Linked DNA regions of Homo sapiens. The protein of the gene in region 3 interacts with the protein of the main gene of each other region in a pairwise test. Each region holds a gene or a part of one and is shown on either strand. Other genes may lie near its edges. The genes, in order: MAB21L2, TRIM42, CEP70 and ZFP91.

What was found.
Region 1: the proteins of CEP70 (region 3) and MAB21L2 interact in binary tests that used the Homo sapiens proteins (3 or more experiments, as listed by UniProt).
Region 2: the proteins of CEP70 (region 3) and TRIM42 interact in binary tests that used the Homo sapiens proteins (3 or more experiments, as listed by UniProt).
Region 4: the proteins of CEP70 (region 3) and ZFP91 interact in binary tests that used the Homo sapiens proteins (3 or more experiments, as listed by UniProt).

Annotation. Positions count from the first base shown.
Region 1 is NC_000004.12:150,577,642-150,585,545, forward strand, and holds MAB21L2 (protein mab-21-like 2), read left to right. Parts: upstream 1-4,509; 5' UTR 4,510-5,388; coding exon 5,389-6,468; 3' UTR 6,469-7,052; downstream 7,053-7,904. UniProt on the Homo sapiens protein: Required for several aspects of embryonic development including normal development of the eye.
Region 2 is NC_000003.12:140,687,934-140,695,660, forward strand, and holds part of TRIM42 (tripartite motif-containing protein 42), read left to right. Parts: coding exon 1-609; intron 610-3,034; coding exon 3,035-3,259; intron 3,260-7,727.
Region 3 is NC_000003.12:138,590,793-138,598,548, reverse strand, and holds the start of CEP70 (centrosomal protein of 70 kDa), read left to right. Parts: upstream 1-4,288; 5' UTR 4,289-4,351; exon of another isoform or gene 4,352-4,840; intron 4,841-6,592; 5' UTR 6,593-6,686; coding exon of another isoform or gene 6,687-6,695; intron 6,696-7,756.
Region 4 is NC_000011.10:58,602,539-58,610,265, forward strand, and holds part of ZFP91 (E3 ubiquitin-protein ligase ZFP91), read left to right. Parts: intron 1-7,291; coding exon 7,292-7,501; intron 7,502-7,727. UniProt on the Homo sapiens protein: Atypical E3 ubiquitin-protein ligase that mediates 'Lys-63'-linked ubiquitination of MAP3K14/NIK, leading to stabilize and activate MAP3K14/NIK. It thereby acts as an activator of the non-canonical NF-kappa-B2/NFKB2 pathway.

The DNA.
Region 1 (7,904 bases), on a different chromosome or scaffold from region 3:
CTGGAAAATAAGATCATGTATTCTAAAATTTGTTTACTCTTTAGTAAAGATTATTGAGATACAATATATTATTTTTACAGATAATAAAATAATAGATACCTTTTAAGTCTCGTTAACATGATAAAGTAACAAATGCACTGACGTTAACTCAGTAAATACATTTTTAAGTAAAGATCAGCAAAAAATAAAACAGTTTAAGAATTTTGTATTCTCTGGAAACATAAACAGGATTATAACTGTCAGATTACAGAAGCACTGACTTCAGCCATTAGTTTGGTTTGGCTCCTGAGAAACACAACATGAACTACTGCATCATTTCTTTTCAAATCCATACATTCCCTGCAGCCGTTCAAGCTTCATCAGCAGTGCAGGAATGTATAAAAATGACAGGCAAAGGGCATTAGGTTTTTTTACTTCCATACTGTTTTCCTATAAATGGAAGACAGGATTCTTTCTCAAAGCACTTAAGCTCAAGCTCAGTCAATGCTGAAGGAAAAATACAACTGAATTCTCTATGCAAGAAAGTATCACAATTGGATTATTTACTACTTTTCAAGGACATGTTGATAAATCTAATACTGTATTATTATCTTAGAATAAAACATTGTAAGGTTAGCATTCTAGCTTAATTACCCATTATTCTTCAATTAGAAATATTTTCACTTTTTAAAGTACTCTGTCAACTCATCACCTTATTTTAACACCAAGTATTCAGTTTTGCTTCTAATTTTAATTATAAAAATTTCCTTAAAATATGCCAATTTTTTTTGAAAATATATTTGTATAAATAGTTAATTTTTTATTTCCAAGTTTCTGTACTCATAAAGGTTTCGGTGAAATAGGAAATTCCATTAATAATTAAAAGTTTATTTAACCATGATAAGTAAAAATAGGATGTAATGAGTAATCTGGTTATTTGACTGGACCTTAAACATTCACATTGCTATAAAACTAGTACCGTAATTACTACAACCTGACTCAATTTTTTGAAGAAACTGGGAAATTTTCAGACTAAAGTTTTAAACATCCTCATATTTTAGTTTATAGTAACTAAAAACATGCCCACTTCAGTACTATCACCTACATTCTTTATGTTCCTAATGTAATGATGCAAGAGGTAAAGCCTAGAGAAGTCTGAAGGTTACGGACTACCTGATATCCAAAACAAAAAATTCAGATCACACCCTGAATGTCCTCCTTCCCTTTTTAGGAATGTCCTGCAGCTAGCCCAGCACCACAGCTCTGGGCTGAAGCATGCCAATGTTGGCACTGCCTAAGCCAAACAAACAAGATGTTTAACAGTCAAATAAAATGTCCTGCAGCCTCCCTAATGAATTTGTCAAGGACCATCAGATTTCGCACCCCCTCCTTTGCCTCATTAACTCAAGTATGATGAGACGGATTATAACAAGAGAATACAGATGAATCGGTCTGAAGACTTGAAGTGGCTTTTAGCCTCTAGAGTTTCTTTCTCTCACTTGGTCTCCTTTAATAGAATATAGTATCTCCTGCAGAAGGAGCTGCCAGTTCGTTTTAATACACCATCAAGGAGCTGCTGATGGACTTCTATACTAACATACATAAAAGCAGAGGTGACAGGGGCTCTTCAATTACAGCCTCCTCGGATACCGTTTCCCCCTTCAATTATTCAACCAGAGGAAGAGAGGACCGCAAAGGCGCAGCTGAAGCTGCTCTTAGAGCAGAGGCAGCCAGAGTGAGTTGGGGTGGGGGAGGGGGGAGAAAGAGAACCAGCAAGAGGGAGCATTATTTGCTGGAAGTGTTTAAGTTTATTGCTCGAATGATGTTTCTAATTAGTACCACGGCCATAAATTAAAGTCGCCTTTGTTTAACTGATTTATTATTTACTAGAGCATCTACCTAAGACAGGGTAAATTGGTAATGAATTGTTTTTAAATCAAAACATTTGTAACGTTTTATCATCCTTCCCTCTGTATGTAAAAGTGGAGAAGCGTAGGGGCAAGGATGCGAGAAAACTTAGCCGAGCTTGACAGAGCCGCCAGTGGAGGTGCAGCGGAGTGTCCGGCGAGTGGTGGCGCGAAGGTCCGCTCGGCCTGGGACGCCCCACCCGAGAGAAGAGGAGAAGGCGCAGGACTTGCGGCGCGGCGGCGGAGCCATGCGAACCAACTCCGCCACCCCTGAGGCTGTTTGCAAACACTCACTCTCGGGAGCGTCGCGGGCCGGGCCATTCGCGAACCAGACGCAACGACGAAGCGACCACCTCGAGAGTGGGGCGGGAAAGCTCCGCACCCTCTATCCCCGCCACCAGTCTCCGCCCAGTAACTGCCCCCGGAGAAGCAACCACGGAGCCCCTCCCGGCCAGTCGCGCTCTCCCGGCAGCGCAGTGCCCTCCGGCCCAGGCAGTTCCCAGAGCGCCGGCAAGGCCTCCCGGGTTAGAGCCGGGCTCCCACAGGCGCGAACTCCGAGGGCGCGAGGTCCCCTAGATCCTTAGGCGGCGAGGCGTTCCGGGACGCACGCGGCCTCCCCGGAGAAGGCTGGAGGTCAAGCAGCCCAAGTCTCTGCCACTCCAGAGAAGTTAACTAAAGCTCTGGAGTCCAAGAGTCGCGCGGACACTTAATTCTGACTCTTCTTCCTAATCGCGGGAAGACAAACCCTAAGCAACAAATCCGAGATAGTTTTTTTTTAAGCAAATATTCCTTAGAAAGGGACTTATGGCAACGAGAGAGGAAGGGTGACAAACTGCCTGTGGTCCGCACCAGGTATGTAAGAAAGAACCAAGAGGCCCAATTGTCTGATACCAAGTAGATAGAAAGAAATTAACTTCCCTATGCAATTCAATTCAGGTTCACCCGGCCGGACTTTAAGAGGGTAAGTCAAGCCCTCCCAAGGGGTTTTGAAAAAGCCGAACTACCAGGTTTCTAAAACGAAGTCTTCACCCAAATGGACGCATAGATTTTTATTTTTATCGCATAACCCAGGGCTGGAATATAACCTCCCAAATCAAACTAAAAATAATCACATCTACCTGAAATACGTTAAAAAGATTCAGAATCCAGACATCTTAGGTTCATACATAAACCCTCAGTATCAAGCAAATCAGAAACAATGTTCTAGCTTTTTTTTTCACCCAAAAGTATGGAAAGGCTACAGTGGGTACAACTCGTTTAGGATAATACATATACTAAAAGCACATGCATGCCTTTCATTGAAATGCCTAGGGAGGAGTGAAGCCATCTGTGTAATCAATAACAGGATAGTTATAGATTTTTGTGGCAGTGAAGTCTTTTAAAAGCAAGAGTCAATTATGAAAATAAAATCATTTTACAAATGAAACTCTGTACCTGTACCCCCTAAGAATACATTCACAATTAGATTTACAACAGTAAGATTTTAAGAAAACTTTAGGTTTACATTTACTTGCCTTGTTTTTCATTAAGTTTGAAGCAATTTTAGTAGCTTATTTTAAAAGTATATCCTACTAAGTTCTACGACATGTAAGTTTGCACCATTTCTCACAACTTAGATATTTTCTCTCTCGTAACTAGTTAATTCTTGTAACGATAAAATAATGGTATTAAATACATGTGAATCTTAATTATGAAATAATTATCAAACAAGGTGCTTGGACTAGTTTTTGCCCTGCCCTGTTTTTAAACAGCATATCGAAATTACTAAAAAGAGATTTATAAACCCTCACCTTATATCCACTCCAACCCTCACTGGTGCACATATACAGCAACTGCTCTGATTCTTGGCAACAATGGGAGGGGAGGGGAAGAGAAAGGAGGATGACTTTAAAGGAGGAAAAAACCTGGAAAAATTAGGTCCTTTCCCAGATTCCCCTTTCGCTTCCCATTTGCCTTCAAGCCAAAGTAATTTTGTTACAGTTTGCACCTTCTACTACACAATGTTGATAGAATCATTTAAAAAAAAAAAAAGTGAACCTTTCTGAACCATTGCTACTCTCCCTCGCGTTATTCCAGCCATCTCCAGGAGAGTCCCTTCTATATAAACTCTTTTTCTTCTTTGCTACTGATAAGAGAGGAGGATAAAGAGGAACGGCTGTAAAATGTGTGCAAGCATTTGACTCCCATTATCTCCTCCTATTTTCTTACTTCTCTCTTTACCCTGTTTCTTTATCAAGTGCAGTGGTGGCTGCTACCGTTCGCCAAGCGTGCCTGTCTTCTCTCTCGGATTGGCTAAAGCACTGACAGCTCGGATAGCGATTGTAGGAACTGAAGCTCCACCCCCTCATGATGGCCCTGGGACCATTCATAAACTAAATAACTCCAGGAAACAGCGAGGGAGAGAGAGAAAGAAAGAGAGAGGGAGAGAGAGAGACAGAGAGAGTTAGAGGAAAGAAGAGAGAGCGAGCACGAGGAAGGGGGGCGGGGGAGAGAAGCAGGGGGAGAGCGGGGCGAGAAAGAGGTCGGAGGGGAGAGGAGGGGGAGAGACGACTCAGAAAGTGGAATCTGTAAAAGCAAGCTAGAGGAGAAGAAGGAAAACCCTGAATCGTTATAACTACACCCCAGATGCAACGCAAGCAACGACTTCGTCACACTAAAACGGATTTTGTGAGGGCCAAAAGTATAAATTACGAAGCAGAAATGATTATCAAACAACTTCCAGCGGTTTGCACCTAAAGAAACACAAGGAGAACCCACTACAAACAAACAAACCCAGTCCAAACAACGCCTCCAGTAGGAAAAGAGGAAAACTGCGATAACACGACCCCCCGAGAAGAGACGAGACCAACACGCTGAGACTGTGGGGCGTCAGCAAACCTCCAAGTGCACGGCGGACTGAGTTGTACTTCGCAGCTCTCTGGACATTAATTACCTCCTGCACCTTCCATTTGGGGGAGGGTGAGGAAGAAGGCACTCACCTACACTGAGCGAAGAAGTCCTATCAGCGTGGAAGAGAAGTTTAAGAATGAACCACTGAATGTTTCGCTTTTATTTTTAAATTTACTTTGGCACTTAAAAAACCTCATTTCCAGATTTCTGGACAATCTCGGCTGCAGACATCTAAGCCTAACCTTTTGGTATCCTGAGTTTTTTCCCTCTCCTTCTCCTTCCTCACGCCCACCCCGCTTCTCTCGCACACGGTCATCTTTACATATCAAGAGAAAGCAAAAAGGTTCCAAGAGGTACTTTTCTTTTTAGAAAATCACCTTTTCTCCCCTAATTCTTCTGCAGAAGAAAAGAGGTTTCGAAAGAGGGAAAAGGAAAAAACAAGCCGGCTACGGTATCAGCCGGTCAGCCCAGGTGGAAAACGAGAGTGAAAGTAGGGCTTAACGGGGAGCGCACCGCCTCTTTCGAAAGCCGCTGGGCCACCACCAGTGCGTGAGCCTTGGATCCCTCAACGTATTGCGAGACGCCGGTGTATAGCCCGGACCTGTGCCCCAACATGATCGCCGCTCAGGCCAAGCTGGTTTACCAGCTCAATAAGTACTACACTGAGCGCTGTCAGGCGCGCAAGGCGGCCATCGCCAAAACCATCCGAGAGGTCTGTAAGGTGGTCTCGGACGTGCTCAAGGAAGTGGAGGTGCAGGAGCCTCGCTTCATCAGCTCCTTGAGCGAGATCGATGCCCGCTACGAGGGGCTCGAGGTCATTTCGCCCACCGAATTTGAGGTGGTGCTCTACCTAAACCAGATGGGCGTCTTCAACTTCGTGGACGACGGCTCGCTGCCCGGCTGCGCAGTGCTCAAACTGAGCGATGGGCGGAAGCGGAGCATGTCTCTCTGGGTCGAGTTCATCACGGCGTCGGGCTATCTCTCAGCGCGTAAGATCCGCTCGCGTTTCCAGACGCTGGTGGCCCAGGCGGTGGACAAGTGCAGCTATCGGGATGTGGTCAAGATGATCGCGGACACCAGCGAGGTCAAGTTGCGCATCAGGGAGCGCTATGTGGTGCAAATCACTCCGGCGTTCAAGTGCACCGGGATCTGGCCTCGCAGCGCGGCACAGTGGCCTATGCCCCACATCCCTTGGCCCGGCCCCAATCGGGTGGCCGAGGTCAAGGCCGAAGGGTTCAACTTGCTCTCGAAGGAGTGCTACTCGCTGACCGGCAAGCAGAGCTCGGCAGAGAGCGACGCCTGGGTGCTACAGTTCGGGGAGGCGGAGAACCGCCTGCTGATGGGCGGCTGCCGAAACAAGTGCCTCTCAGTGCTGAAGACTCTGCGGGACCGCCACCTGGAGCTACCCGGCCAGCCGCTCAACAACTACCACATGAAGACGCTGCTGCTGTACGAGTGCGAGAAACACCCACGAGAAACGGACTGGGACGAGTCGTGCCTGGGCGACCGGCTCAACGGCATCCTGCTGCAGCTCATCTCCTGCCTGCAGTGCCGCCGCTGCCCTCACTACTTTCTGCCCAACCTCGACCTCTTTCAGGGCAAGCCCCATTCGGCCCTGGAGAGCGCTGCCAAGCAGACCTGGAGGTTGGCCAGGGAAATTCTCACCAATCCCAAAAGCCTGGACAAACTATAGGGTGCTGGGGACTGCTTGAAAAGCGACACAAACGGGCGTGCTCTCTCAGACACACAACTCTGCTATAAACAGCAGAAACTCTGGACACAAACTTTTATGTAAGTCACCTGAAATAGGAATCCGGCAGAAGACCTTCATTAATTAAGAAGCAAACAAAAAGAGAGCAACCCAACCAAAACAAATCACATTCTTGCACAAAAGTGATCGTTTTCTTCCAAACAATGTGAATTTAAAAGGTCACACAAAAGAAGCAATCGGGCTCCGCCACCACAAAATGAAACCCAAGGTACATTTTCAAATCAATGTATAGTAGTTCCCCCCCCTTTTCCTTCTTTCCCCCTATCCTTTTTCTCTCCACCCCATCCCCCCCCCCATTTCGTTTTGCTTTTGGTTGCCTGAATGTTGTCACCAAGTGAAAAAATTATTTAACTATATGTAAAATTTCTCTTTTAAAAAAAAGTTTTACTGATGTTAAACGTTCTCAGTGCCAATGTCAGACTGTGCTCCTCCCTCTCCTGAACCTCTACCCTCACCCTGAGCTGTCTTGTTGAAAACAGTAATAAAAACATTACTTTACATTGTAATTGACTGTTTGTGGATTGTTCTTAAGTGAAGGCAGGTGAGATCACAGTTTATAATTTCCAATGTAAAGATGTGACGAGGAATCAAATGCAAGAAGCTTCCACTTGAACTGATTTGCAAAATTTTAAATACAGTACATTTTGTAGAATTGACTGTATAAGTTCCGACCCAAATCCTTAGAAAATAGAAAACACTAATTTTACTCAACTATAATATATATTTGTTCTGTAGATGTTAAGATTAAAAGTAACATCTACTTCACGCTTGGGAAAAAAGTATGAAAGAAAATATTTTGATCCTAATTTTTAAAATAGAAAAAACTTTTTCACATTAAAAATTAAGAGATGTGCTTTCTTATGCCATAATTTCAAAAAATCCAATCTGAATCCGATATACAAAGGAAATATTTATGGATTTTTCTGAATAGTTAACAAAGTCAGTTGATACTTTTCCTTCAACCGTTTGTCCTCTTCAAGCTTTGAGTGATAAAAATTTAACAATTAAATAAACCACAACAAAAAATACAATGGTTATAGCAATAATCCTCTCCCCAAGCATATGGTGATATGAACCATTCAGATTTATAAATTACTTCCATTTTAAAATGGCTTAGTTGTAAATTCCATAAGTATGATTATTTTAATCAAATTTCAAGAATTATTCTGAAACTGCTTATATGCAATTCAAACAAAAAAGGTTTTCATACCATTTTTATAACCAAAGAAAAATTATTATTCCAGGATTTAGAAATAGGAAAAGTACCTTCCTCCTCTTTCTGTTTTTCTAAGGTAACAAACCAATATACTCATTTCAATGTTTCAGCTTTAACAAAGGTTTCTTTTTAATGCAAGGGA
Region 2 (7,727 bases), 2.1 Mb from region 3:
ATGAAAGTGAACGAGATGGATGGTCTGATCGCCTACTCCAAGGAAGCCCTGAAGGAGACTGGCCAGGTGGCATTCCTGCAGTCAGCCAAGATCCTGGTGGACCAGATCGAGGACGGCATCCAGACCACCTACAGGCCTGACCCACAGCTCCGGCTGCACTCAATAAACTACGTGCCCTTGGACTTTGTTGAGCTTTCCAGTGCCATCCATGAGCTCTTCCCCACAGGGCCCAAGAAGGTACGCTCCTCAGGGGACTCCCTGCCCTCCCCCTACCCCGTGCACTCAGAAACAATGATTGCCAGGAAGGTCACTTTCAGCACCCACAGCCTCGGCAACCAGCACATATACCAGCGAAGCTCCTCCATGTTGTCCTTCAGCAACACTGACAAGAAGGCCAAGGTGGGTCTGGAGGCCTGTGGGAGAGCCCAGTCAGCCACCCCCGCCAAACCCACAGACGGCCTCTACACCTACTGGAGTGCTGGAGCAGACAGCCAGTCTGTACAGAACAGCAGCAGCTTCCACAACTGGTACTCATTCAACGATGGCTCTGTGAAGACCCCAGGCCCAATTGTTATCTACCAGACTCTGGTGTACCCAAGAGCTGCCAAGGTAAGAAAGGTTCTGGGCCCAGTGGGGAAGTGGGAGGGTGTGGGGCACAGAGTAGAAGTGAGTAGTCAGGAAAGGTTGCACTTACCTCTTTGACCTCTAGGATCTGGTCACTCATATCTGCTCCTCTAGACTCTTTGTGGTCATCCCATTCAAAAGGGATAAGCTCCTGGAATCTTAAGTAACCCAAAATTAGCTTAAACCAAACAGTCAATATATTTAACTCATAATCGTAAATATATCTGAAAGCCCTACCTCCACTGCAAAGGCAGCTTCTCAACTGAAAGAGAACCCAATTTGGGAACCAAAGTAATTTGAAGACACTACTTGGCAGTGTAATGTTTCCCAAAGGAAAGCCTGTAATAGAGACAGCACAGAAATTGTACTTAGAAATGCAGGCTCCATTACCTATCAGCTGTTTCCGTTAAATTGCTGCCTTTCCTAAAGCAAATATCCAGAATCTCTATGATTTGGAAAAATTGGGAGGATCATCCCCAATGAAATTTCAACTCTTCTGAGATTCAACCCGCCTTGAAGGGAGAGAGTGAAGAGTGGGGTCTGTCACAGACCTCTGTAAGTGCCATTGCCTGGCCTCAAGGGACATGACTTCCCTTTGACCCTCTTGACCTAACATGGACAACATGAACAAATGGGCTTTTCTTTAACATACCTTTCAAATCTAGCTGAACCCACACGGAATTGTTTGTAGAACACTTTATTAAGGTTTATGGAGGAAAAAAATTAACATGCAACTAAATATTCTATTAGAGTGCCTCTTTCCTCCTCTTGGATTTTTCCTACAGTCAACCCATGGCCTGCTCCCATGTGGCAGAGCTCATATTTTGTCTCCCATAATCTGAGAACACTCCCAAAGACTTTCAGATCCTTGAGTTCTCAAACATTGATGTGCACCTGGGGATCTTGTTAAAATGCAGATTCTATTTTAGTAGGTTTCAAAGGGGCCTGAGATTCTGGTTCTCACAAACTTCCAGGTACTGCCAATGCTGCTGTCTACAGACTACACTTTAGTATTAAGGATCTAACAAATGAAGGCCAGATACAGACCAAGATTTACTTTTCCATTCTCCTGACGCATCACAATCTATGTTTTATTGTCTATAATTAACACAAAGAACAACCCATACTTTGCAAGTTAGAACACTCCATGAGCTATCGACATGATGAAGTGTTTCTGCCCTTCACATAAGCAATGCCCATAACTGAGCAGCTGAACTACATTTCCAATTGATACTAGATCAGCAAGGCCTATCGTGTATGCTTATTACCTCAAGTATAGCACTGGGTCTCATCTCCTTGACCAACTGAGACCTCTTGAGAAGTTGGCAGGATCTTGCTCTGGAGTCAGAGGATTGCTAGTATCTGCTCTATACCTGGGCATGGAAAATAGTCACCCCATGCCACCTATTAGTCATCCCTGATGAGCTCAAAAAAGAGACCTACGCAAAACAACTCAGTCAAGTCATTTGCTGTCGAAAGAGGACACCTAAACCTACTGCCAGACAGTGATATTTGATTTTAAAATATCATCGATTCATATTTTAGGATAATGGAATGGACTTCATACAGGAATCATAGTGCTTAGCAATGCAGAAGATTAAGTTTATGTTAACATCACTCTCAAATCTTTAGGATTTTAGCATAGAAAATATTCTGAAACTTAGTGTTGTACCTTTTCAATATGTATTGTTAATATCATAGAGATTTTTTAAACTCAGTTTTAGTTCTAGGAATCTCTTCCAAGAAAATTATTAAAAATTCAGACAAATATTTATGCCCAACAGTATTTATTACAGCATTTATTTATTAGAGTATAAAATTAGAAACAACATAAATGTTCAACAATAGAAGGATTAAATTATTTTGGGAGAAATTTCAAAGATGGTAGTTTACTGAATTTTTAATGATTTAGGAAAACATACAACATAAGTAAAAGAAAATAGAAATCAAAGCTACTTAATCCAAGTTTTTATGTATATATATATATATATATATATATATATATATATATATATATATATATATATATGTTTGTATGTGTGTGTGTGTTCTGAAATTGCAAAGAAATAATAATGAATTAACTGAATTGTGATATTATGAGTGATGTTTATTTTCTTCCCCTCTATTTTTCGGTATTTTTCAAGCAGGAGGACAATTGTCACCTCCATGTCGACTGACAGTAACAGAACGGAAACCTTCTGTTTGTGAAACTCATTACAACCATCATGCCAGGCCTCATCACACAGTCTTCCAAGACTTGTGCATGGTCTAATTAAAAGTCTTCGGTAGCTACAGGGGATGGGGTCAGCTTAAACTCACCCCACAGATAGTCAACATCACAAATCTTTAAGGGAAAGAAAGCTGAATGATGTATACTAGTACCACACCAGTATGTTCATTTCTTCCATAGGTTTACTGGACATGTCCAGCAGAAGACGTGGACTCTTTTGAGATGGAATTCTATGAAGTCATTACTTCTCCTCCTAACAACGTACAAATGGAGCTCTGTGGACAAATTCGGGACATAATGCAGCAAAATCTGGAGCTGCACAACCTGACCCCCAACACAGAATACGTGTTTAAAGTTAGAGCCATCAATGATAATGGTCCTGGGCAATGGAGTGATATCTGCAAGGTATTGTGTGCGTTATTTCTCAGACAGATTTTTTTTTCTATGGTAGGTTCTGGATGAGGCCCTGTTAAGATGATCGTGAGATTATAGAACTCACTATGGGACTCTTCCTCTAAGCACAGAACATTTGTTAACTTGAGGCCAAAGAGAGGGCTGCTGGCCTCAACCAGACTTTGCAGATGTCGCCTGAGAATTGTTCTATTTGATTCAAAAACATTTGTTCTAGGCATTGTGTACAGATGTAGAGATTCAGAGGAAAATAAACATAATCCCTGCCTTCAAGGTGCTCAGGGTCTAGTAAACAAATAATTGTTGTGTGAGAAGGACATGAAATAATTGTGGTACGAGAAAGATAAAAATGAGGTGCTATTCCCAGGCAAGGATGGGGTGCCAGATTTAACTAATGAAAATACAGGATGCCCAGTTAAATTTGAATTTCTGGCACACAATAATTTTTATAAAATATGTCCAGTGCAATATTTAGAACCTATTTATACTAAAAACAATTGTTCATCTGAAAGTCGAGAAACTGCCACTAAGCAGGTCAGTGTGCCTTCCAAAAAAGAAAGGACAAAGTTATTCCTATCTTCTTTGTGATCCAAGACTTACTCTTCTTTATATCTCCAGGGAATACACATTCATGAGTATAATTTTATTGATATTAAAAGGAGAAAGAGAATAAAAATACCAAGACTGCCTAGAGCTGCTATCTTACCATATAACCATAAGGGTGTTCTTTGGAATCAGGGTCGATTACATCTTAATCAGGAATTCTTTAGAAGAAGAAGAAAAAAAAAAAGTCCATTCATTTCAGCTTTTGAAAAGAGAAATTTATGACAAAGATACAGGAAGTCTCATGAGACCACTTCTAGGATATGCATCTGATCTGATACCCAAGGGAACTGGAGAGTCATCAGTTTCTCTCCCTCTCCCTCTTTCTCTTCTCTTCCTCTCTCCCTGCTTCCTTCTCTCTCTCACTCTCTCATTCTCTTTGCTTCTCTCTGGATCTGCACCATTTTTGGCTAGCCCTTAGTTTCTGCTCCCTTAAATTCAGCTTGTATATGGTTTTGAATTGTCATGGCCCAACCCCTGTGTGACCTTAAAGCTCCAATGCCCAACAGCATCTGACCAACCATACTCTGTTTCCTTAGTAAAATGTTCGAGGAAAAGAATCCGAGTGGTTGCTACCTCTAGTAATAAAGGCAAAGCAGGAGTAAGGGTGGTCAGTATACCAATAGCAAATCTCCTAGGGTGGGACCACTCATCCTGGTTGCCAGCCCCAGGGGGACATGCTTTACCTCATAGAGTCCAGCACCCATGGACACACACACACATACACATACACACACACACACACACACACACACACACACAGAGAGAGATAGAGAGAGAGAGAGAGAGAGGTCAAACCTGGCACAGGAAGGATGTGAGATGGGGAAGCCTGCTAGCCACTCCTCCTGCCAGCCTCCAGCCAATTACACTGCTGCTCAGTTGCCCCAAAGCCCTTCTCATTCTTGATACCCTTCTCTTCAGAGCATGGAATGCCCGTGGCTGCCCCACATCCGCATGTCTCTTGACTATGGATTTTTCCTTCCATCTAATCTCATCTGCCTTCTCAGTTTTTAGGAATTCCTCAAAACTGTCTTGCCCATGAAGGGCACTCAGTACTGTTGCTAAAATATATGTAATCTATTATTTTCAGATGCCAGGGAAAGAACGGGTGGAGATACCAAAGTATGTCATCAGTCTACCATCTCAGTCCCTCTTGGCTTTTCTTAGGTAGAGGCTTTTGTTGCCCTTCTGAAATTATGGACTCCTTGAGAATAAAATTCACATCTAATTCATGGTTCTTTCTCCCACAGTGCTTACCACAGCACTTTGCATATAGCTGGTTCTTAATAGTTATTGAATGAGTATATGAGTGAAAATGTGACCAAATAAATGAACAAATAAGGAATGTCTAAATTAAAGAGTGAAGAAATAAATTGATAAAATTAATAATTACAAAGTACCGTAAGATGCCTGAAAGCTGTTAAGTGTTTTATACAGTCAAAAAATAGCATTTCCCTTGAAATTGTGTTTATGTGATTAATTTGCCCTCCCTGTAAGAGAAGGAAATGCATTCCAGTCCCTTTCTTTTTAACACAATATCTAAATGAGCAGAGCCCTAATTAATGAGGTTTTCTGAAAGCTTCATTTTTATCTGACTTGAGGAGCTGCAATATAGATTTTTCCTTCAGAAGTAATTCTTCCTCCCTTCTTTGTGGTTATATTAGCATTCCAGAGGAAACACTGGTTTCCTTAACATTTGTCATGATTTGCATAAGTAAAGCCTTCAATACCAAATGAAAATAAGATGTGTGTTTGAATGACATTTATAAAGTTTCATAAAAGTAATGACTTCATTTCTTACCTATAAAATCAAAATTTTTTCCTTGGCATCAGTTCTATGCAGGTATTCCTGAAAGGTTTCACTTAAAATGTTGCAATGAGGCAGCAGGATCATTTCTTATCCAAAATGCAATATTTCTATCACACGTATTTTTGTTTTAAAAAGTGAAATAACACCTTTTATATTTTATTTGCATAGTCTAGGACTTGATTTTTAAGAGATTTATTTGGTGTGTAATACATGCAGCAAGAAAATTAACTTTAATGATTTTGAAAGGTCCCATTTGAAGGTCATTTTTATGTCAGATGGGGTATATTCATTATCACTAATCATCCCAACCACTGGGAAAGGAGGAAGTGATTGCTTCCATTTTACAGATAAGAAAAATGAGGCTGTAAGAAGCAAAGTGTCTTCCATTTTACAGATAAGAAAAATGAGGCCTCATAGAAGGATGAGTTGAGTGGACACCTTGGTCTGTATCCAAGCCCACAGTCCTTTGTTCCCCTGCACCATGCTCAAATGGAACTAAGTCTGGAACAGGGTAGGCTCAGCCCTGGGGACATAGTACTTTACTCTGGGAGAATGATGTCAAAGCCAACAGCAGGGAGAGCTGAACTTTTATTTTTTGAAAGTCAAGATTACGCATTGAAAAGAGCATTGTATTTGGTCTTGTGTACCTGGATTCAAGTCCCAACTCCACTAGGCTCAGGTCCATGAGGATAGGTGTTGGTCTTACACACCCTTCTGTGCCCATGGTCCCTAGCTGAAAGCTTCTAACATCAAAGAGCCTAATTAATATTTTTGAAGGGTAGAGAAATGTGTTTTTAGGTAAGTCATGTACGTGTTGACCTCAGTTTCTTCCCCTGCTCTTCCTCTGGTCCTCAATATATCTGTTGACCATCATACCCATTTCTGAAAACAGTCTCCTTACTTTGACTCACTGTCTCCCTCTGACTTTATATCTCAGCTGACTTCCATGAAAGCTTCCCATGACAAATCTAACTGCCTATCTGTGTATTAGTTTCCTATTGTTGTTGTAACAAATTAGTAGTTTAAATAATACAAATTATTTATTTCCTTACAATTCTGAAGAAGTCCAAATGGGTCTCACTGGGTAAAATCTGTGTCAGCCATATTGCATTCCTTCTGAAGGGCCTGAGGGAGAATACATTTCCTTGCTTTTTCCAGCTTCTAGAAGCCACCCGCATTCCTTGCCTCATGCCCCTTCCTGAATCTTCAAAGCCAGCAACATTGGGCTGAGTTTTCACACTAGCATCTCTCTGGTTCTGTTCCACCTCCATCTTCCACCTTGAAGGTCCCTTGTGACTGCTTTGAGCCCACCTGATAATTCAGGCTAGTCTCCCTACCTGAAGACCAGCTGGGCCAGGTGCAGTGGCTCACACCTGTAATCCCACCACTTTGGGAGGCTGAGGGAGGAGAATCTCTTGAAGCCAGGAGTTTGAGACCAGACTGGGCAACATGGCAAAATCCTGTCTCTACTAAAAATTAAAAAAAAGTCAGCTGGGTGTGGTGGTGTGCGCTTGTCATCCCAGCTACTTGGGAGGCTGAGGCACGAGACTCGCTTAAGTCTGGGAGGCAGAGGTTGCAGTGGGCCAAGATCAAGCCACTGCACTCCAGCCTGGGTGACAGAGTGAGACTCCATGTCAAAAAAATAAAAAAAGACCAGCTGACTAGCAACCTTAATTCCCCTTTGCTATGTGTGTAACCTAACATATTCAAAGGTTCTGGGATTGGGACATGGACATCTCTGGGGTCCATTATTCTGTCTACCACAATCTGTAAAGTGGATGTCCTAGGTTACATCAGACTTGGAGGTAAAAATTCAAGCCCAACAATAGTTACAAATTGGTAATTTTCTGGGTCTTTCCCTGTTAGCTCTTCAGGAAATGCAGCAACCCCTGTCCCCAACCATCCTCTCAAAGCCCTTCTCAGTCTGCACTGAGAGTCATCCTCGGTGTCTGATGGGGCTGAGGAAGTAGTCCTGCCAGCTGCCCTGAGTCTCTGCAGTGCTGCTGTCTTCCTATTCGGCCTGTGCTCCTGCTGAAACCCCAGCCACAC
Region 3 (7,756 bases):
GACCAAAAGGTTGACTGAAACCCCATGAAAGATCTTGTCCAGACCATCCAGCTAAGCCCTACTGTATTCCTGACCCACAGAAACATTGTGATGATAAATGTTTATTTTAAGCTGCTATGTTTTAGGGTAATTTTTATGTACCAATAGATAACTAATACACAGACATTAGCAATAACTAATACACAGTAAATAATTGCAAATTGTAATAAATGCATATACCAATCTGATGGTAAAGCAGATGTCTGTCACAAGAAGTGGTATGGTCAAGTGGTTAATGACATAGGCTTTGGAGCCTGAATGCCTAGGTTCAGATCCTGGCTTTGCCATATACTAGTGTGTGACCGTGGCAAATCATTTCAAAATTTTTTTGGCTTCTATTTCCTAACTTGCTCATTTGTAAAACAGATAATAACAGTACTTATATTAAGGTTGTTGCGAAGATTCAACAAGTTAGAAAATGAAAGTGCTTAGCTCGGAGCCTAGCACATTTTAAGTGCCCAATTAACATAACTATTGTTATTCTGTATGGATTATTGAGCATTTGTCATTAATATATTTGCCTCAGCTGTTTGCATATTGTCCTTCACATTGGAAAATGACTACTGAAGGTGAATGCTCTGAATAAATTTGACTCAAATTTAACAATGTAGTTCTGAAAGAAGAGAAAGACCCTCTCATATTATTTTATATTGTTTTATACTCAGTACCTGTTTTAAGAAAAAACAACAAGGAAGTAAAACCAAAGACAGGCAGCCCGGCGCCTGGCCCGAAACCAGGCCTGGGCCTGCCTGGCCTAAACCCAGTAGTTAAAAATCAACTCATAACTTAGAAACCGATGTTATTCATAGATTCCAGACATTGTATAGAAGAACATTGTGAAACTCCCTGCCCTGTTCTGTTTCTCTCTGACCACCAGTACATGCAGTCCCTGTCACATACCCCCTGCTTGCTCAAATCAATCACAACCCTTTCATGTGAAATCTTTAGTGTTGTGAGCCCTTAAAAGGGACAGACATTGTGCACTCAGGGAGCTCGGATTTTAAGGCAGTAGCTTGCTGATGCTCCCAGCTGAATAAAGCCCTTCCTTATACAACTCAGCGTCTGAGAGGTTTTGTCTGTGGTTAGTCCTGCTACAGTTCAAAGCTGTGTTTAGCACCTACTGTGCACCAAGGAAATATGCTAGCTGCAGGATGAAGTTTAGTAAGACATGGTTCATGTTCCCAGGGGTTCAAATTCTTGTGGAAAAGGCAGAAACAAATGTATTCATGTAATAAAGGAATCTAAGTCTAAAAAACTTATGAGTTGAAGAATCTTTGAGAATTCATCATGATTACCATTACATATGATATACTCATGTTTTTCTAGGGAGAAATATGACAGTTCTATACCCAGAAGAAAATTTGAGAATCAGTTTAGAAGTTGAGAAATTAGGCCGGGTGCAGTGGCTCACGCCTGTAATCCCAGCACTTTGGGAGGCCGAAGCAGGTGGATCACAAGGTCAAGAGATTGATACCATCCTGGCTAACACAGTGAAACCCCTAAAAATACCAAAAAAAAAAAAAAATTAGCCAGGCGTGGTGGCAGGCGCCTGTAGTCACAGCTACTCGGGAGGCTGAGGCAGGAGAATGGCGTGAACTGGGGGGTGGAGCTTGCAGTGAGCCACGATCACGCCACTGCACTATAGCCTGGGCAAGAGCGAGACTCCCGTCTCAAAAAAAAAAAAAAGAAGTTGAGAAATAAAAGATGTGTTTTAACTGCTAATGAAAGTTATAATTTATGCTAGGAAGCCAAAGTACAGAGGAAAGCAGAAAGCCGAAATGAAGACATGCTTGGCTTTCAACTTAAGTGTCACTTCATCAGAGAGGCTTCCTCCATAGCCCCTCTTCTCTTCTTTGATATCACTTATTATATTAATAATATATACTTAATTGCATTTGTTTCATATTTTCTCCGCAGTTAGACTATAAGATCCACGAAGGCAGGAATCACAACTGGGCTTACTTACTATTGTAAACTCCCCCACTTATAAATCTGACTCAGCATCTAGTTCAATCCCTGGTACAAAACAGGTGCTTAACAAAAAAATTTTTTTTTTTTTGAGACGGAGTTTTGCTCTTGTTGCCCAGGCTAGAGTGCAATGGTGAGATCTCGGCTCACCGCAACCTCCGCCTCCCGGGTTCAAGCGATTCTCCTGCCTCAGCCTCCTAAGTAGCTGGGATTACAGGCATGTGCCACCACACCCGGCCAATTTTGTATTTTTAGTAGAGATGGGGTTTCCCCATGTTGGCTAGGCTGTTGTCGAACTCCTGACCTCAGGTGATCCACCTACCTTGGCCTCCCAAAGTGCTGGGATTACAGGCGTGAGCCACTGTGCCCGGCCAACACATTTTTATAAATGAATGAATGTTAAATGAATGTTTAGAATTATTAGAATTCTATTGGGTAGATGAGGCCCATAGAAAACTCTTGAGACCAATGTAGCAGGATTCTCAGTGAAAGACTAAGTTTGTGTGCAGGGATGTTTTCCTTCTCTAGCAAAGAGAGGTGCTGGAAAGGCTTTCATGGTCCATAAGAAGGGAATTGTTTTGGAGGGCAGTGCTATAGCAACTCTTCCCCTCCATTCACCACATAAAAAATTCAGTTAGAAAATAGAGAGGAATCAGCCTTCTTGTGCTTTGAAGACTGTGAAAGATACTGGTGATCATCCATCTAGCATCCATTTTCCTCTTCTCCTTTACAGGTCTCCAGTTTTATTCAAATAGCCATGTCTCCACCTTGCAACTCATGTGACTCAAAGAGCACTGACACCATTGCCAATTCCAATTGTCATAGCTCCTTTTCACTTCTGGAACCCAGGCTTAAGCTGTCTGTACATTTCCCAGGCAGTTACTGGTAAAGAGGAAGAGTGTGTGCCTGTGTGAACTTATTGGCTCAAAAAACCAGAAGGAAAGGTTTTAGATGAAAAAGAAAGTATGTGGTCCTGATTTCTCCAAGTAGACATCTGGAAAATCACGTTAGTATGAATTTGAAGTCTACCCTTTTTTTTTTTTACAACAAAGCAGAGACTAATAGCAACTGGGTCCTTGTTAACTTGCTTAGCCACTGAATTAATCAAAGTCTCCCTTGCCTCTGAGCTTTCTGTTATGCGAGATAAGCAACTTCTTTATTTTTTAGGAAGACAGTTTAACTCAGATTCTATATCACGTGCATCCAAAATAATAATAACTGACTCAAAGATGTTTGGCCTCTACAATTAGGGCAGCCATTCTCAGAAGAGTATGCAAGGGCACCCTATTATCTTGGAAAAGGGAAGCACTGAGACTATTTGCATTTTGAGAACTGAAAATGCAATCTGCTAACCGTCGTTAGAGTGAATATCCAGGTATGGAAAGCACAGTGGGTAGGCGTAGGTTGGGGTAGGGACATGTTTGCATGGGGCAAACACAGAGATCAAACCTAAGTGTAGTCCCAGCTGCCTGGAAGAAGGCTAAGAAGGGTCTGAAAGTATTGAGCTCCAAGAGCCCTTGGATCTCCTGATGAGAGACCCTTGGCTGATGCCCTAGATGGGACATCCCTGTTGGCTACTGTGGGACCTGCATCATTTGACTGCAACACAGTCTGTTGCAACATTTGACTGTAACACAGACCTACATCATTTGACTGATTTGAAAAGACAAGTTGTCAACAGCGACACCATGTGGCTATAAGATACAATGACAATGGTGGACAGCTACAGCCTCAGGTAGGGCCTGACGCTTCGTCGAGATGTGGAAAATGCTGAATGGGAAGATGAACTGTCGTCAACAAATATTTATTGGGGTCCTCCAAATGTCAGCTGCTACAGTGGTCATTCAGGTCTGGAACATCGAGAACATGCTGACCCGTACCCCAGCAAGGGCTCGTAGTCGCGGCGGGGTAGGGGGCGAGAGAGAGGGCAGTCTCTGGTGGCCAGGTAACCCAGGCTTCACTTTCACCCACGGCCACAAGTATTTCTGACGTCTTCCGGGCAAATAAGCCTCCATGTAAGTGACAGGGCACCCAAGGAGTGCGTTGGAAGCGCCAGCGTGCCCGAGACCAGCACATCGCACCGACGCCTTCGTTTGCGGTAAGCCCCGCCCCCCGTAGTGAGCCAACCGGAGGGAGCGGGGCGGACCCAGCTTCCCGGAGAGGCTGGAGAGAATCGTTTGGGGGCATTCGCAGGCCAAAGAGGGGCTGGCCCTCGACGCGCTCGGGCTCGATTGGCCGCCCTCCCCCGGCGGTGGTAACGGTCGCGGAGGCGGGGCCTGACGTAGCTGATCCCAGCCTAACCTGGCCCGGCTGGCTGCTGGTGGGAGGCCGGCGACTGAGTAAGGTGAGTGGCTCTCGGGGCTCTCAGAGGCGTCGGCGTGAGCCCCTTCCCGGAGTACCCCGGACTTGACCTCACCTGGGCCTAAAAGTGGTCAGACTGACCCTTGTCGGGGAGGAGCCATCTGGGACAGGGTCGCGCCAATTAAAAATCCCTGCGTAAGGGTTTGGGGATCGGACAAAACTGCCTCCAGTCCCAGCTCCCCAGGCTTTGTGTTCTTTGGCTTCTCCTTTAATGTCTCAGCGCCTCCGATTCTTTATTTGTATACTAAAGCTGGTAATTCTTGCCTTACAAGGTGGTTGTGAGGGTTAAATGAGGCAGTAAGAGTAAAGCTTAGAATCACGTCGGGCACAGACTCGATTTAAGCTGTAGGTAATTACTCCATCCCCCAAAATCGACCCGGGCTGAAGCGCTAGTTTTGTGTCAAACAACCGCGAAGGTTGTTTGGGGAGTGAGGACTCGGAGCAGAAGGGGGCGGTTAGGCGAATAGCACAGGTGAGTATCTCTTTCTCCAGTTTATTAACCTCATTCCGGATTCAGGAGACCTCTGACTTTATACAGGGCCTAATAGGAGTTTTTCAAGGTGAAAAATGCCAGAAGGCTAAGTCACCTGTAACAGAGAGACCAATCAGAGTTTCCTTTTTTACTGCCACTTTGTTTTTCAATCAATGATATTAAACAGGCAGGGCGCAGTGGCTTACGCCTGTAATCTCAGCACTTTGGGAGGCCGAGGTGGGCGGATCCCCTGAGGTCAGGAGTTCGAGACCACCCTGGCCAACATGATGAAACCACGTCTCTACTAAAAATACAAAAATTAGCTGGGCATGGTGGTGTGCGCCTGTAATCCCAGCTACTCGGGCGGGTGAGGCAGCAGAATCGCTTGAACTCGGGAGGCGGAGGTTGCTGTGAGCCGAGATCGCGCCACTGCACTCCAGCCTGGGTGACGGAGCGAGACTCTGTCTCAAAAATATATGTATAATATATTAAACTCTGTGCAGGCATTACCCATATTGGTTTCAAGCCTCTGCATGAGTTTTGTACTTTAAATATTGCCAAGTAGACTCTGGCCTCCCCTGCCCCGCCTTTTGGGGAAGAGGTGGCTGACTTGGAGTTTTCCCTACAGCTTTTGCTTCAAAGCAAGGTTCTGCCCCTTCATGTCACCTCTCCTGAGACAGAATGATTTGGTTGAGATGACATTCCATTTTAACTCTTTCCTATTTGGGGTAAGTTCAGCTCTTTCTTAGGAACATTAAACAGCAAGTTGCAATATTTTTAGAATAGAGCTTTTGCATTTAATAAGGAATAGAGACTTCGAAAGGGTTACATGTTCATTTATTGCAGTAATTTGAAGTATATACTTTTGAAGATGCTTACAGATTTTGGTGTGATTCAGTTGAGAAGGAACAGTTATTGGCCATGGTTTATTGTCAGCTCCCCTCCCCCACCCCAAATGGTGAAAAAAATAATTAAATTTTAAGATATGGAGCATGTTACAAGGGGCTTCAGACCTATAAAGGGCAATTTGGCTGAAAGACTCGGGAAACCTAGAAAGTGCCAGAAGATGCAATTATGTTTTTGCTTTTCTATGCTTGGCTTACTATGCCATGTACAAATCAACTCCTACCCTCCGACTCCTACCCCCCGACTCCTACCCCCAACAATCTTATTTTAAGTGTGTTATGACAGTAATTAAAGCTGTAGCTTCTGTTTTGGCCCTAGAAAGCATTTGGTCTCTTCCTGTGACTTTAAAGTTCCAGACCTTTGTCCTGTCACAGCCTGTAGTGGGGAAAAGGCTGCTGCAAACTATTGGCCCGTTTATTTCACAGAATGGTCCTCTGAAAAGGAGGGCTTGGTCACAGGTGCAAATGAGGAGTAGTTTTGTTCCTGTGTTTGCTTTTGTGATCAGTGGTAGTTTGTCTGAGGATGCTTCATTTTAGTATCCTTGCAAATGAGAATATCCTACCTGTGGAGCCAGAAGTCAGAATTGATGATAGATGATGATAGATTTGGATACCCAGCTAAATGTCTTAACAAGGTAGGGAGAGGAAAGATAAGAAGGAGAGAGAAGAGAAGGGAAGAGGCATATGATGGTGAGCTGGGAAGGCCATTAGCAGTTATTTCAGTTGTGCCTGCTTTATCTGTGATTACCAGTACCTTGGATGCCTGCTCTGGGAGTAACACAAGACCATTCTTACTAGGAGGTTGAACATTTCAAGATTTTGTTCTTTTTATCTTTTTGAAACCTAGATGAAGATCCAGTTTCAGACATGAGACTCGTTGGGTGATCATTTCATTGAGATCAACCTGAATGACCAGGTGTAAAGTGCAAGAGTAATATGCTATGACTGAGGTATGTCTAATGTAACGGATGACTCCAGATGTTGGGAGGCCATGGAAAAAAATCTAATATTTATTGAGTACTATACTAGGTTCATTACATATATTTCCTTTTGACTTCCTGATAATCCTATCAGGTAGATATTTTACAACTCAGCAAAGAAGCTGAAGCTCAGAGAGGTTAAATACCTACTTAAGATAACACAGAAAGCTGATCACCAACTCTAATCACAGTCTCCATCCTGCTGTGTGCCAGACAATGCTTTATGTTCTTTCTATATTAACTCTTCTAATCTTTAACTCGTGAGCTGAGTACTTTTATTATCCTTATTTTATGATGAGGAAATTGAAGCACACAGAGATTAGTACTGTACTCTCCTGGCTGTGTGGCAGAATCCATGATTTGAACCCAGGCAGTCTGGCTACAGAGCTCTGCAGGTTGAGTATCCCTTACCTGCAATGCTTGGAACTATGTTTTGGACTTTTAGATTAAAAAAAAAATTGGAATATTTGTATATACATGAGGTATCTTGTTTAGAGTTGGGTAACTCTAAACACAAAATTCATTTATTGTTTCATATACAGCTTATACACACAGCCTGAAGCTAATTTTATACATTTTTAATAGTTTTATGCATGAAATGAAGTTGTGACTGTGACCTGTCACATAAGGTCAGGTGTGGAATTTTCTACTTGTGGTGTCAAGTTGGTGCTCAAAAAGTTTTGGATTTTGGAGCATTTTGGATTTCAAATATTCATATTAGGAACGTTCAACCCGTACCAGCTTTATTTTGGTTAGGTTAGCATTTCCTTTACTTTTCTATTTTTTGTTATTTAACAAAATCTTTTTAGCGTAAAATGAAATTTTTGTTATAAATCACATACCAAATGTATAGCTTAATAAATTATTACAGGACCATACCATTCAGGTATGCCAGATCCCCTCCATTACCCTATCCCAGTCAAAACTCCTGTGTTCCCATTTAGTCACCATTCTTCTGGGTTTTATAGTTTTGTAGTAATCACTTCCCTGTTTTTTTTTTATTATTTATTTATGAGATAGAGTCTCATTCT
Region 4 (7,727 bases), on a different chromosome or scaffold from region 3:
GTATAATGTTCTTTGTGTTTTGTAACAGTTGTTGAAGTGCATTTTGCCTGATATTAGTAGGGCCACCTTTACGAGTTGAATTGCTTTCCTCAAAAGATGTTGAAGTCTTAACTCAGGTACCTGTGAATGGAACATTGAGAAATAGGGGCTTTGTAGTAAATAGGCTTTTGTGGTAATTTGTTATGGCAGCCCTAGGAAACTAATACATTTTGGTATTGGAAGTGGGCTATGAAAAAGTACCTAAAAATGTTGGCATAGCTTTGGGATTGGGTAATGGATATTGGCTTTGAGTATTTTGAGGTATGGTGCATGCCTCTAATCCCAGCTATACTCGGGAGGCTGAGGCAGGAGAATTGCTTGAACCTAGGAGGCGATGATTGCGGTGAGCCAAGATTGCGCCGTTGCACTCCAGCCTGGGCAACAAGAGTGAAACTCTGTCTCAAAAAAAAAGAAAAGAAAAAACAGCGTAGATTGCCTTGAAGAGATGGTCAACAGAAATATGAGTGTTAAAGGCAGTCTGATGAGGCCTTAGAAGGAAATGATGAACATGTTATTGGACAGTGGAGAAAAGGTGATCCTTGTTATAAAGTTGCAGAGAACTTGACTGAATTGTGTTCTATCATTGGGTAAGCAATGAACTTGGATATTTATCTGAGTAGATTTACAAACAACGTGTAGAAGGTATAGCCTTGTTTCTTCTTGCTTATATACTAATGTGTGAGAGGAAAGATATAAATTGAGGAATGAATTGTTTAGCAAAAAGGAGCCAGCACTTGATAATTTGAAAATTTTTTAGTCTGTCCAAATAGTGTATTGTGGTACAGGACCAAGGCTGTGACTGGACAGCTATTCTCTAAAGAGACTTGGTATATAACTTGTGGATCGAATCAGCCATCTCAGCACTTCCCAGAATAGACATGCAATTTTTCAGGAAAGATCTGTGGAGGACTCTCATTTGGTGGCTTCGACCCCCTGAATTTCATGAAAGACTGACAAAGTTTTTGAGAATGTTGTGACAGCAGAAACACTGCCAGGCTGGCCTGAATGGGACAGAGACAGAATGGAATTAAAGAAGAATGATGCTGAGGGTAGAGCTGCAAATGCTGGGTCCTGGGTGTATTAGACTTCCTGGGGCCACGATGGCAGGGCTATTTCCCCAGTGGACTCAGAGTACAAACCATTATCCACAAAAGCTTATTCTTAGGGCTTAAAGTCTAATGCTTTTCGCTAGGTTTTGGACTAACTTGGGACCCCTGACCCTTTTTCCCCCCTTCTATTTTCTTCCTTTTGATATGGAGATGTGTAATCTATAAGTGTCCCACCATTGTTTTTTGGAATCAGCTCCACAGATGGAGAAGAATTTTGCTCTAGAGTGGACCATACCCCCAGTCTCATTCATAACTGATCTAGATGATGAGATTTGATCCCTTTTGAGTTGATGATTTTTAGGTATTGTTTGGATTTAGACTTGATACTGGAATGGGTTAAGACTCTGGGAGGTTGGGATTAGGTGAATGTATTTTGCACATTGGAAGGACATAAATTTTAGGGAACCAGAAGGTACAGACTACTACGGGTTGAATTTTATCCCTCCAAAAATGTGTTGAGTCCTAGCCCTTAATACCTGTAAATATGAACTTATTTGGAAATAGGATCTTTGCAGATGTAATCAAGTTATAATGGAGTTATTCTGTATTACAATGGGCCCTAATCCACTATGACTGATGTCCTTATAAGAATAAGGACATCACACATGGGACAGGAGGAAACACCGTGTGATGATGGAGATAGAATTGAAGTTAGCAGCTATAAGCCAAGTTGTTGACCACCACCAAAAGCTAGGAAGAGGCAAGGAATGATTCTTCTCAGAGTCTGAGAGGGAGTGTGGTCTGTTATTGTGTTGATTTTGGACTTTTATCCTCCAGAAGTATGGGAGAATAGATTTCTGTTGTTTTAAGACATCCCAGTTTGTTGTGATTGGTAGAGCAGCCCTGGTAGACTAATACATTATTTCAGCTCTCTCTTGCTTACTATTCGCATGTAATATCTTAATCCATTCTTTTACTTTGAACCTGTTTGTGTCTTTGGATCTAAAGCAAACTTGTCCACTATGGCCTGCAGTCTGAATGCGGCTCAGAACGGCTTTGAATGTGTCCCAACACAAAATCGTAAACTTTCTTAACACATTATGAGTTCTTTTTTAAATTTTTTTATCTTATCAGCTATCATTAGTGTATTTTATGTGTGGCCCAAGACATGTCATCTCCTTCCAGTGTGGCCCAGGGAAGCCAAAAGATTGGACAACCAGGTCTAACGTGAGTTTCTTGTAGACAGATTGTAGATTGGTTGTATTTTTTGTTAATCCATTCTGCTAATATGTACCTTTTAATTCCACACTATATGTATGTGTAAACTACCGATAAGAATGGCCTGCCATTTTGCTTTGTGTTTTCTACCTGTCTTAATATCTTTTATTTTGATCTTTATTTTCTTTGTATTTCCTTGTGTTGCAGATATATAGCAGTGTACCATCTTCTCTTTTCATTTTCTGTATATTTTTATTTTCTTAGGGGTTACCTGGGGATTGCATTTAGTACTTTAAACTTTATCTAGTTTAATGCCAGTTTAGCTTCAGTAGTAAACATATCTCTGCTCTGTACTATTCTGTGCCTCACCATTTATGTTATTGTTGCAAAGTGTATGTTTTGATGTCAAATGCCCATTAACATAAATTTACAGTTGCTATTTTGTACATTTGTCTTTCAAATCATGTAGGGAGAAAAAGGAGTTAGAAATCAAAAGTACAATATCATATTTTTGCCTCTGTAAAATATGCCAGTGTTTTAATTTATGGCTTTAAGTGCTCTCTAGTGTCCTTTAATTTCATCTTAGAGGATTCCTGATAGCATTTTTTATAGGGCAGATCTACTAGTGATAATCTGTTTTTGATTTTCTGGTAATGTCTTAATTTCATCTTCGTTTTTAAAGAATAGTTTCGGCAGCTATAGAATTCTTGCTTGACGATTTTTTTTTTTCCTTTCATCACTTTGTTATCACACTGCCTTCTGACTTCCATGGTTTCTGATGAGCGGCTGTTAATCTTGTTGAGTATTCCTTGTTGCTTATGAGTCACTTCTTGCTGTTTTTATGGTTCTTTGTATTTGTCTTTCTACCGATTGATAATAATGTGTCTAGGTGGGGATCTCTTTCATTTATCCTACTAGGAGTTAGGTAAAGTTCTTGTTTGTACAGACTATATTCCCCAATAGTTTTTCAAATATTCTTTCTGTTCATTTTCTCCTCTCCTTCTGCAAATCTTATTATGCATCTGTTGGCATGCTTAATGGTTGTCTAAACGATCTCTTAGGCTTTATTTTCCTTTATTCTTTTTTTCTTTATATTCTTCATACTGGATCATCTCTGTTGGCCTAGCTTAAAGTTCACTGATTCTTGTTTTTCAAGTCTGCGGTGAATTTTTAATTTCAGTTATTATACTTCTCAGCTCTAGAATTTTTTTCTCTTAGTTCCTTTTTTGTGGGGGGGGTGTGGTTTCACTCTTGTCGCCTATGCTGGAGTGCAATGGTGTTATCTCGGCTCACTGCACCCTCCACCTCCTGGGTTCAAGTGATTCTCCTACCTCAGCCTCCCAAGTAGCTGAGAATACAGGGATGCGCTGCTACAAGCAGCCCAGCTAATTTTTGTATTTTTAGTAGAGACGGGGTTTTGCCATGTTGGCCAGGCTGGTCTCGAACTCCTGACCTCAGGTGATCCGCCCACCTTGGCCCTCCAGAGTGCTGGGATTACAGGTGTGAGCCACTGTACCCGGCCTCTCTTGGTTCCTTTTTATAGTTATCTTTTTATTGGTATTCTGTATTTGTCGAGACATATTTCTTCTGATTTCCTTTAGTACTTTGTCAGTGATTTTCTTTAGCTCTGATTGTCTTTAGTTCTTTAAACATTGTTTTTTACAACTTTTATTTTAGATTCGGGGGTACATGTGCAGGTTTGTTACTGGGGCATATTGTATGATATGAAATTTAGGATACAAATGATCCCATCATGCAGGTACTGAGCATAGTACCCAATAGTTTTTCAACCTCCCCCCAATAATCTCCAGTTTCTGTTGTTGCCATCTTTATGTCCATGAGTACCTAATGTTTAGCTCCTACTTTGGTCTCTGTGGTCTCTAAAGGTTCTGGTCCTTTCGCTTATATTCATCAAGTGATTTGACAGATTTCCTTAAACATCTTTACTCACCTTTTTCTTGATTCAGTGCTCACTTGGCTTTTATAACCTTTAACTATTGTTAAGAGTTTCCACAAAGTTGATTCTGACAGTGTTTGTTCATGATATGTGTTTATTTCTGTGGAGGGACATTTTTGCTGTCATCTCTGACAGAGTGGTTTTTTTTTAAGACTAGATTTTTAGGGGACGGGAGCAGTAGTATTCAATAAGATAGGCTATTATGCCTTATTCATAATGGTAAACTATTGTTATCAAATTGGCATCATTTATCCAGTGAGTAAAATCTACAGTATAGGAGGTTGTGGGCATACCATCCTTTCATCATGAAGAAGAAAGGAGCTTTGTTGAGGACAGGAGGTTATGGAGTGAGTTCAAAGTCCAACTCGGTACAGTTGGGTTAAGGAAAAAAAAGATGTGTCTATTATTAAATGTTGTAATACTTCATAGGTGGTGTTGAATTGTTCTTTTTGATGAAATTGTTTTAAAAGTAGTCATGACCTATATGTAAAAGTCCTTCATTATTAATCTCAAAATATGATTTCTAAATCTAGGTGTCCTTAGCTAACCTTGTGATTTTGAATAAGCTTCTTTTTTGGGCTTCCAGATACTTTATGGGTAAAACGTAATGGATTGTGCTTAGACTGAATGGCCTTTGAGGTATTTTCACCTATATTAATGTTTTATTTTTTATTTTTTCTATTAAAATAGCTCAGATAGGAGGGTGATGCAATAATGAATGGAAAAAGACAGCTGAAAGGAAATGCACAACTGATTTTGATGGTTGTTTAGAACTGTTCGCACTGCTATTTATCTCTGTGTTTCAAACTAATTTCATTACTTCAGTATATTGTCATAAAACTTTCAGTGTAATTAAAGCTAAAATAGCCTATAGTCACCACATTGCTCCATAGTAAACTATTTTTTAATGTTAAGCAAAAATGTTGCCATACTGTATATATAGTTTTGTGTCTTTTTTATACATTTAACAATATTTTTGCTGATAATTCCATGTCATTTTTAACATAAACCTACCTCTATATAGTATTCAATCATACTAAGGTATCATGGTTTATTTAAGCACTTTATCTTTGACAGAGGGTTAGGTTGTTTCTGTTCTTTGCTATTATAAACATAATACAGTTAACCTCCATGTGGTAGTTTATATTTCTAGGGCATATACTTAAAGGTGAAATTACTACACATATTTTTGGACCTACCTTGGAAGTAACCAGTACTTAAGAATTTCTTGTACTTCTTCCAGAAATGTTATTATAGTATGTAAGATATATATATATACACACACACACACATACTGTAATGACTAATGTGTAGCACTGTTTTTAAGTAGTAGAAGAGTAGACAACTAAACATTCAAAGGGGGATTGGTTTCATAAGTTATATATTTGTGTGTATATATATCTTACATATATATCTCTCTCTTACATATGTACACAATTATTTGTGAAACCAATCCCTCTTTGAATGTTGTTTTCTACTCTTCTACTACTTAAAAACAGTGCTATATGTTAATCATTTATAAATATGATTGTAATTTTGTAGGATAAATTTCTAGTAGTTGAACATCATGTGGAAAGGTATATACATTTATAATTTTGATGTATATTGTCAAATTGGTCTGCATGGAGGTTTTGCTAATACATTATCATATGTGTGTTAGAGGACCTGTTTTCCCACAGTCTTGACAATACATTATGTTGTCAAATATGATCATCCCCAATATGATACATGAAAAATGGTGTCATGCTATCGTTTTCATTTGAGTCTCTTGTTCTGAGTGGATTGAGCTTTGAGCTTTTGTTTTTTGTTTTTTCTTTTTTTGGAATGGAGTCTTGCTCTTTCGCCGAGGCTGGAGTGCAGTGGCGCAGTCTCAGCTCACTGCAACCTCCACCTCCCGGGTTCAAGTGATTCTCCTGCCTCAGCCTCCCCAGTAGCTGGGATTGCAGTTAGGCACCACGACGCCTGGCTACCTTTTGTATTTTTGGTAGAGACGGGGTTTCACCACGTTGGCCAGGCTGGTCACAAACGCCTGACCTTTTGATCTGCCCGCCTTGGCCACTCAAAGTGCTGGGATTACAGGTGTGAGCCACTGAGCCCGGCCTGTTAGTTCCTATTTTTCTATTGGGTTATTAGACTTTGTTTATGGTTGATTTTTGCCATGAGGAAAATTGTTTTTATGTGTATCTTATGACCTGAAATTTTGTTTTATTATTGGGCCTTTCCCGTTCTGAGTTTATTAAAGAATCTTCTATTGTTAAAATGGGCTCAATTCTAATGTACTTTTTTTTTATATAGGTCTAAGTATTTAGCTACGCCAGGTATGAAAGCCAGTTTCTGAGATTAACTTTTTATTACTTACTACTCAAGAGAGGATGACCTACCGTACTTCACCCTTAAAACATGACAAAATATAGGATAACAATAACAGATTTGTGTGTGCTCCTGTACACAATGTCTTATAGGACAACTGAAACAGAATAGCACCAGAGCTGGACTTTACCATTCAATTGCTCTATAGATTAGTTCAAATTTATGGTGTGGTTCCAAGAAAAACTCTTGATTAGAGTGAAAAGTACTCCTGTTAGGAATTCCTCTTTAGTAATTTGTTATAGACTTGTTTGGTTGTAAATAACATCTAGATCTATGGTTCTTTCTTTTTGGTGCCTCTGTAGTTCTGGTCATCTTTTTGGGACTAATTAATTTAGTTTCTTTTAACTTAGATCTAAAAGGTAGAATTTCATGAATCCAGTTACTTAAGTGTATTTTGCATAGTTAGCATTGCATTTTTTAGAAGATAAGGCAGTATAAAATTACTACTTTGCAACATGAAGTAATTTCTTTAGCATGATGACATTAAGGATAAGTTTTATCTCATTTTCCTTTTTTTATTATTTCAATTAAAGTCTTCAGTTTTTTTTCCTTTGAAAATATTTAATTTATCTTCAACTGTATTTACAATTAGTAGATATACAGGGATGGTTATTGGTTAACTGTAAACTTAAAGAGAATGGTATGTCTTTTTATTTAGATCCCAAGGAAGAAAAAGAGGAAGAAGACGATTCTGCCCTCCCTCAGGAAGTTTCCATTGCTGCATCTAGACCTAGCCGGGGCTGGCGTAGTAGTAGGACATCTGTTTCTCGCCATCGTGATACAGAGAACACCCGAAGCTCTCGGTCCAAGACCGGTTCATTGCAGCTCATTTGCAAGTCAGAACCAAATACAGACCAACTTGATTATGGTACAGTGCAACTAGAATATGGCTGTTTACTAACTAGTTGCTGTTACATTTTAAATGTAATGTTGAACATTTGTGTTAACAGCTTAACTGTCAGGGGCAGGTTTGATGGTGTAGGTGGTATTTCTTTGAACAGTTTGCAGATATTCTGCTTTTGTATAATTACCCCATGCAGTAATTTGATTTGCATTTCTTGACTGCAGAGAGAAAATATCTTATATCTACACTA